Homo sapiens: one gene and its partner. The protein of the gene in region 1 purifies or fractionates together with the protein of each later gene. This does not show direct contact. Each region holds a gene or a part of one and is shown on either strand. Other genes may lie near its edges.

Evidence for each region. The genes of interacting proteins can lie anywhere in the genome.
Region 2: the proteins of C1QTNF7 (region 1) and LRFN3 purify together in Homo sapiens (affinity purification with mass spectrometry; one large-scale study listed by BioGRID and IntAct). This does not show direct contact.

Annotation. Positions count from the first base shown.
Region 1 is NC_000004.12:15,434,533-15,438,032, forward strand, and holds part of C1QTNF7 (complement C1q tumor necrosis factor-related protein 7 isoform b precursor), read left to right. Parts: intron 1-1,203; coding exon of another isoform or gene 1,204-1,211; coding exon 1,212-1,449; intron 1,450-3,500.
Region 2 is NC_000019.10:35,942,874-35,946,373, forward strand, and holds part of LRFN3 (leucine-rich repeat and fibronectin type-III domain-containing protein 3 precursor), read left to right. Parts: intron 1-1,674; coding exon 1,675-2,146; 3' UTR 2,147-3,500. UniProt on the Homo sapiens protein: Cell adhesion molecule that mediates homophilic cell-cell adhesion in a Ca(2+)-independent manner. Promotes neurite outgrowth in hippocampal neurons.

The DNA.
Region 1 (3,500 bases):
CATGGGTCCAACCATCCAAACACAACTCATTTGCATGACCCCAGAACCACCTGTATATGTTCTTCCCTTTAAAAAACTGCTAATACTAAGGACCATTTAGCCTAAAAAATCAGGTATCTCCAATCTATACCACTCTCCATCTCACCTTCAGCCTATATGCCAAAGTGCCATACTAATAAATGACTCATCATTCTGAGCTTCTAGGCTTTATGGGGGAGTCCTATTAGATCAGAATTGAAGAGACCTGCTGCCTGCTTCACTTGGGGCACAGGCACCATGCGTGGCTTAATTTCACACAGCTCTTTAATTGAGCCCCAGTGCTAACAGCTTAATGGGACACCACGACATTATATCCTGCAGATTTTAAATTAAAGTTTGAGACCTCCCCTCAGGACATGCACAGTACCCCAATTAACACTAATTGGCATTATACATGATTACCAAGTGAAAACCATGGTTTTCCTGAAAATGCCTCCTCTTTTCTCCAGCTTTAAATAGTCCATAAATTCTAAGAAAACAATCATGGGTGCATGCAAAGATTAGCTAGAATGATGTCTAGCATGATGTTCATATTGGGAGAACTTTGGAAGCAACCTAAATATCTATAATGGGGGTTCTGTACATAAAAGATAGTAGAGACAAAAGCAATTATTTTTTAATGTCACACATAATTTTGACATGAGAAGGTGTTCATGATACATTGTCAAGTGAAAGAAGTTAAGGAAGTGTAGAAATGGCATGGTATCACTTTCTCCATAGTATAGACAAAAGAGACTGGAAGGATATATATACTAAAATGTAAATCTCAAGGTGGTAAAAATAATGTTGATGTTTATCTTTTTCATTTCCAGGTCTAAATTTTTTTCTTTAAAAAATGCACTATGTTTGTAAAAAGAAAATGCCATTTTTAAATCCATCATTGATTTCTGAAGAATAAATGCAGTGATTTATTTTGAAATGTTTTTAACCAATTCTTCATCTGCACCAACTCCCGTGTAGGGCACTGAGGATTCTATATCAATAATGTGTTGATAATTTTCAATGGAATTATGAAGGTAAACAGTGTTTTACATGTCTGGAAAGACGAACACTGGAGTGATTTGTTGCAAATGCACATTCTCTTGTTCAAACTGATTCAATCATGCCAAACCACACCCCTCCCAACACAGAAAGTTCATTTACGTCTGTGTGTTTCTCTTCCAGAGCCAAAGATGTTTGTCTTGCTCTATGTTACAAGTTTTGCCATTTGTGCCAGTGGACAACCCCGGGGTAATCAGTTGAAAGGAGAGAACTACTCCCCCAGGTATATCTGCAGCATTCCTGGCTTGCCTGGACCTCCAGGGCCCCCTGGAGCAAATGGTTCCCCTGGGCCCCATGGTCGCATCGGCCTTCCAGGAAGAGATGGTAGAGACGGCAGGAAAGGAGAGAAAGGTGAAAAGGGAACTGCAGGTAATGAATGAGAAGTTGCATAAAACACCCTCCTTCACCCCCACCTTAAAACTGTTCCCCTTTCTTTGTTACTTTTTCTAATGGGAATTGCTCCTTAAACCCCTTCTGTACTTTCATTAATCGTAACTTACTGAGCCCTTACTAGGCTTCAGATGCTTCCCTAAACTCTGTAGCTGCATCCTTATTTCACTGCAATGACAACTCTTTCAGCTGAATGTTATCCCATCTTATAGATGAGAAAATTGAGCCACAGTGTGATTAAATGAATTACTGAGAATGGACCGGGGTGGATGTGCACTGCTAGTAGCTGCCAGAGCCAGACTCAAACATCTGATGTCCAGAAGTACTGGGCTATTGCAGCCAGCAGGCAATGGCTGGATGTGCAAGCGCATGGATGGACAGACAGAGAGATGGACAGAAGGGGAAATGGACAGATTAAGCAGAGGCAAAAACCAGGAGCCAGATGCATAGATGCCATCCTGCTCAGCATGAATATCCTGAACAAAGATACATAAAGGGCTTCTAAATTTTATTTTTCACAGATGAAGTGACAATAGCACTGTAAAGCCTACCTTTCCTAGCTCATCACTTTCCCACCTGACACATAGCAGCTAAAAAGCAGATTTTTACAGCTCTTTACAGCAACACAATTGCCCACTAGTCCTTCAGTAATTTTCACTTTGTTTCCTCGCAAAATAAGTTGGTCCGGGAAGCTTGCCAGATTCTGCAGTCCTTCAGGGTAAACCAAATTGAAATTCTAGACAGGCTGTGTTAACTCTAAAAGAGGAAGGGATTTGGAATCAATCTTTCAAGACAAGTTGCTGAGCATAAAAGTTGGGACAAAAGATAGGAAGGAAAAAATTCTATATAACTCCAATCATCACACCTGATTTACTGGAGTTCTGTAAAACAAAATCATAAAACATATTCAGATTATTGGATAATAATTCATTTCTGAATTTGCCATGCGGATAATATCTGGCAAATCAATTACCAAATCTATGAACATTGCACAATAATAGATAAAGAACCTTTAGGGAAAGCTTCAACATCAGATAAGAAGCTTTAATTTGGAGCTAAAATGTAAGTTTTTAAAGACATCCATAGGGTAACACCTGTGAATATAAGTTACAACTGAGTCATAATTATGAATATTCTTGAAATCCTATAATAACATCAGGATTATAGTTATATATTGCTTTTAGTTTACTGGGTCTGGAAGCAATAATGTAGTGGCTATACAAACAAACATTGGAGTCAGAAAGACTTTGGCTCAAATCTTAGCTCTTTCAGTTACTAATCTAGTATCCTTGGCCACATATGCTCTTAGAGGCTCAGTTTCCTTATTTGTAAGTTGGTGGTAATAAGGGTGATTGTTAAGTTTAAGGGAAAGAGTACATGCAAAACCTTCCACAGGATAACTGCCATGTGATAAAAACTCAGTAAATGTTATAACTTATTAAATTCTGATCTGCAAATATGAGTCACAGCTAAATTTGTGACTAGCAAAAGCCATATAATAAACTAGACATTGGTAATTCGTTTCATGAGGTAGTTCTAATATTAAAGACATATATGTGGATATGCATTCAGATTAAATTAAATGTTCAGAACTGCTACAGTTTTAACCATATATGAGGCTAACTATACCACCACATTCATAGATCCACTCATTCATCCATGCATCCAGGCATTATTCATTCAATAATATTTCTGTGCACCTATTACTATCTAATATTATTCTTCCAGTGTTTCTCAACCTCTGCACTAATGAGAATTTGGGTAGAATAATTATTTACCGTGGAGTGACTATTCTGTGCATTGCAGGATATTCAATAGCATTCCACTAGATGCTAGTGGCACTCCTCTCTAAATTGACAATCAAAATTTTTCTATACGTAGCCAGCTATCCACTGGGTAGAAAGGTGGACAGTGCAAAATTGCACCTGGTTGAGAACGCTGTTCTAGACACTGGGAACGCAAGCATAAGACATTGTTCTTGCCTTGATAAGCAGACATTCATGTGGGGGAGGCCAATATATACAGACATA
Region 2 (3,500 bases), on another chromosome or scaffold:
AAAAAATTAGCTGAGTGTGGTGGCACGCGCCTGTAGTCCCAGCTACTCAGGAGGCTGAGGCAGGAGAATTGCTTGAACCTGGGAGGCGGAGGTTGCAGTGAGCCGAGGCTGTGCCACTGCACTCCAGCCTGGGTGACAGAGTGAGACTCCGTCTCAAAAAAAAAAAAAAAAAGTCACACAAGTCCTGGCCACCTTGCCAGGTGGGGAATGGGATGAATGCTGTCCTAGACAGTCACCCTGCCCCAGGCGGCCACGGAGTTCCCTGTACCTCTCTCATTAGAATAGCCTAGGAATAAAACAGGTGATAAGTCAACTCTCCAACAGGGTGCCCAACTACAAAAGAAACTATAGTGAAATTGGGTGGTAAGGATTAAAAGGAAACAAGAAAGAAAAAGATAAATAGAAACCAGCCAACAGAGATAAAAGAGAAGCAGGTGACAGAGCCGGAAAGAAATAAGGCAACAGGGAGAAAAAGAAAGCAGTAGTGACGGAGGCACATTAGTTTAATGAAAAGGGAATCAGACGACAGGACTCATTGGAAAACAGGCTATCAATACAGTCATCATAATAAGGCAATAGGGCTAGGGGGACATTTATTGGCAGGTTACAAGGAAATCGGGCAACAGGGGTACAGGGAGATCAGGTGGTTTGATTGGAGAGAATCCTAGCTGTACACTAGAGGAAAATCAGGCAGCTGGAAAAGGGAAATTTGGCATAGGCTGCAGGAAATAGGGGAACCAGAGGGAAATTGGCAAGCGTCTGGAGGAGACTGGGAGGTAAAATGTGGGGGAAATTGGATGGGGGTGGCTAGAAGACAAAAGGATTAAATTAGATGGAAATTGGACAGGGTTAGAGCAGAATTGGGTGGTGAACTGGAGAGATGACTGGCAGTGGGACCAGAGTGAAATCAGGCAGAGGATTGGGGCAAAATTGGGCAGGGAGGCTAGAGCGGAGCTGGGCTGCAGGCTGGAGGGAAATTGAGTGGGCAGTGCAAAAGGGAAATTGGGCAGTTGGGTATAAAATGAAACCGGCAAGGTGTGGTGGCTCACGCCTGTAATCCCAACACTTAAGGAGGCCAAGGCAGGAGGCTGGACTGCCTTGAGGCCAGGAGTTTGAGACCAGCCTGGGCAATATAGCAAGAGCCTGTCTCTACAAAAAATTTAAAAATTAGCTGGGCATGGTAGTGCACACCTGTAGTTCCTGCTACTCAGGAGGCTGAGGCCGGAGGATGGCTTGAGTCCAGGAGTCAGAGGCTGCAGTGAGCTGTGATCATGCCACTGCACTCCAGCTTGGGCAACAGAGCAAGACCCTGTCTATAAGAAAACAGAAAGAAAGAAAGAAAAGAAACAGGATGGATTGGAAGAACTCACGTGGTGAGCTGTTAGAGAAATTGGGTGGTGGGACTAGAGTGAAAATGGGCAGCAGGCTATGAGGACGTGTGAGAGGGTGGGCTAGAGTGAAATTGGCCAACAGACTGGAGGGGTATCAGTCAGGTGGCTGAATGGGATGTCAGACCAAAGGGAATTGGGATGTTGGTGAGAGGGAGCTCATTGGGTAGAATGAAATGAAGGAGTGGACTGGTGGGAAGTCTAGCCCCGCAGGGAGTTTGGTGGGGGAAGCACAGGTTGGGGGCTGGGCAGCCTGAGACCTGACCCCCACCTGCCTGCCCTGCAGGATGATCCCGGCGGAGAGCCGCTCGTTCCTGCTGACGGACCTGGCGTCAGGCCGGACCTACGATCTGTGCGTGCTCGCCGTGTATGAGGACAGCGCCACGGGGCTCACGGCCACGCGGCCTGTGGGCTGCGCCCGCTTCTCCACCGAACCTGCGCTGCGGCCATGCGGGGCGCCGCACGCTCCCTTCCTGGGCGGCACGATGATCATCGCGCTGGGCGGCGTCATCGTAGCCTCGGTACTGGTCTTCATCTTCGTGCTGCTAATGCGCTACAAGGTGCACGGCGGCCAGCCCCCCGGCAAGGCCAAGATTCCCGCGCCTGTTAGCAGCGTTTGCTCCCAGACCAACGGCGCCCTGGGCCCCACGCCCACGCCCGCCCCGCCCGCCCCGGAGCCCGCGGCGCTCAGGGCCCACACCGTGGTCCAGCTGGACTGCGAGCCCTGGGGGCCCGGCCACGAACCTGTGGGACCCTAGCCAGGCGCCCCCCCCTCTAAGGGTCCTCTGGCCCCACGGACAGCAGGACCCGGACACCCTGTGGGACCTGGCCTCAAACTCACCAAATCGCTCATGGTTTTTAAAACTCTGATGGGGAGGGTGTCGGGGACACCGGGGCAAAACAAGAAAGTCCTATTTTTCCAAGCTTGGGCGAAGACCCTTGCCCTCGTCTCTGTCTATGGGGGTTGGGGGACGGAGCAGGGGTCTGGAGCTGGGGAATGCCTCCTTTGGGGAGACACCCCCTCCCCGCCCAGTTCAGTCTGAGGACCCCGGAGGAGGCTGAGGATGGCGATCCATTCAGACAATAGATGTTCCCTGCGTGTCGGCTCTGAGCATGCCCTGGGTTGGGGGATGCTGTGGTGATCCAGATAGCCCTGAGCCCTGCCCGCAGGGGCCTAAAGTCAAATGGGAGACAGACACATCCCCAGACAGTGATAGCACAGAGTGACCAGGGATGTGGGGATGAGGGAAGCCTGGGGGATTGTGACAGTCCAGAAGAGGTACCCTTGCTCAGCCCCAGGTGTGGTCAGGGAGGGCTTCCTGGAGGAGGACACATGTGATCTGAGAATGACATATGAAGGAGATAACTGGGCAAAGAGCAGAAGGAAAGCTCTTTCAGGCAGAGGGCACAGCACAAGCAAGGTGGTGGTGTGCCCTGGGCACTGGGGGTGCTATGGTAGAGGTGAGGCAGGAGGGTTGAGCAGGGTCTAGGACCTCCAGGCTGAGGAGCTCAGACTCTGGCCTGATGATACCAGGGAGCCATGGAGGGTTGTATGCAAGGGAGGAATGGGGTCAGTTTGGGGCTTCAGGAAGATCCTTCTAGTGCTATGAGTAGGGTGGACCCAAGGGGAAGACTGAAGCTGGGAGCCCCAGGGGAAGCTGGGGCAGGGACCTGGGTGGGTGAGGACGAAGTTGGACCAGCTGGGCTAGGGAACAAGAAAAGGGAGTGGGTTGACAGAGACACTCGGGAAACTGTGGGAAGCTGAGGCGGTGGGTTATGGAGCTGCGGGGCCATGGGGTGGGGCAGGAAGATGGTGGGGACTGCCCTCATATAGGACCAGGGAGGAGGAGCAGGTTTGGGAAAGATGATATGGCCAGTGGGGAACTTGGTAGGTGTAGGGGGCCCTGAGGATGTCCAGGATGTGGCATTCAGGAGGGTGCAGGACCCCTGGTCTGAGGCTGAAGCTGGAAATAGAAATGAGGGCTTTGTCAGCAGAGATGGGAACTGACGCTGCTGGGGTTAAGACGGCTTCTTGTGGGGGATGATTCCAAGTCCCCACTATGGGACATTTTTTCTTTTTTCTTTTTTTTTTTTACAGATGGGGTCTCACTA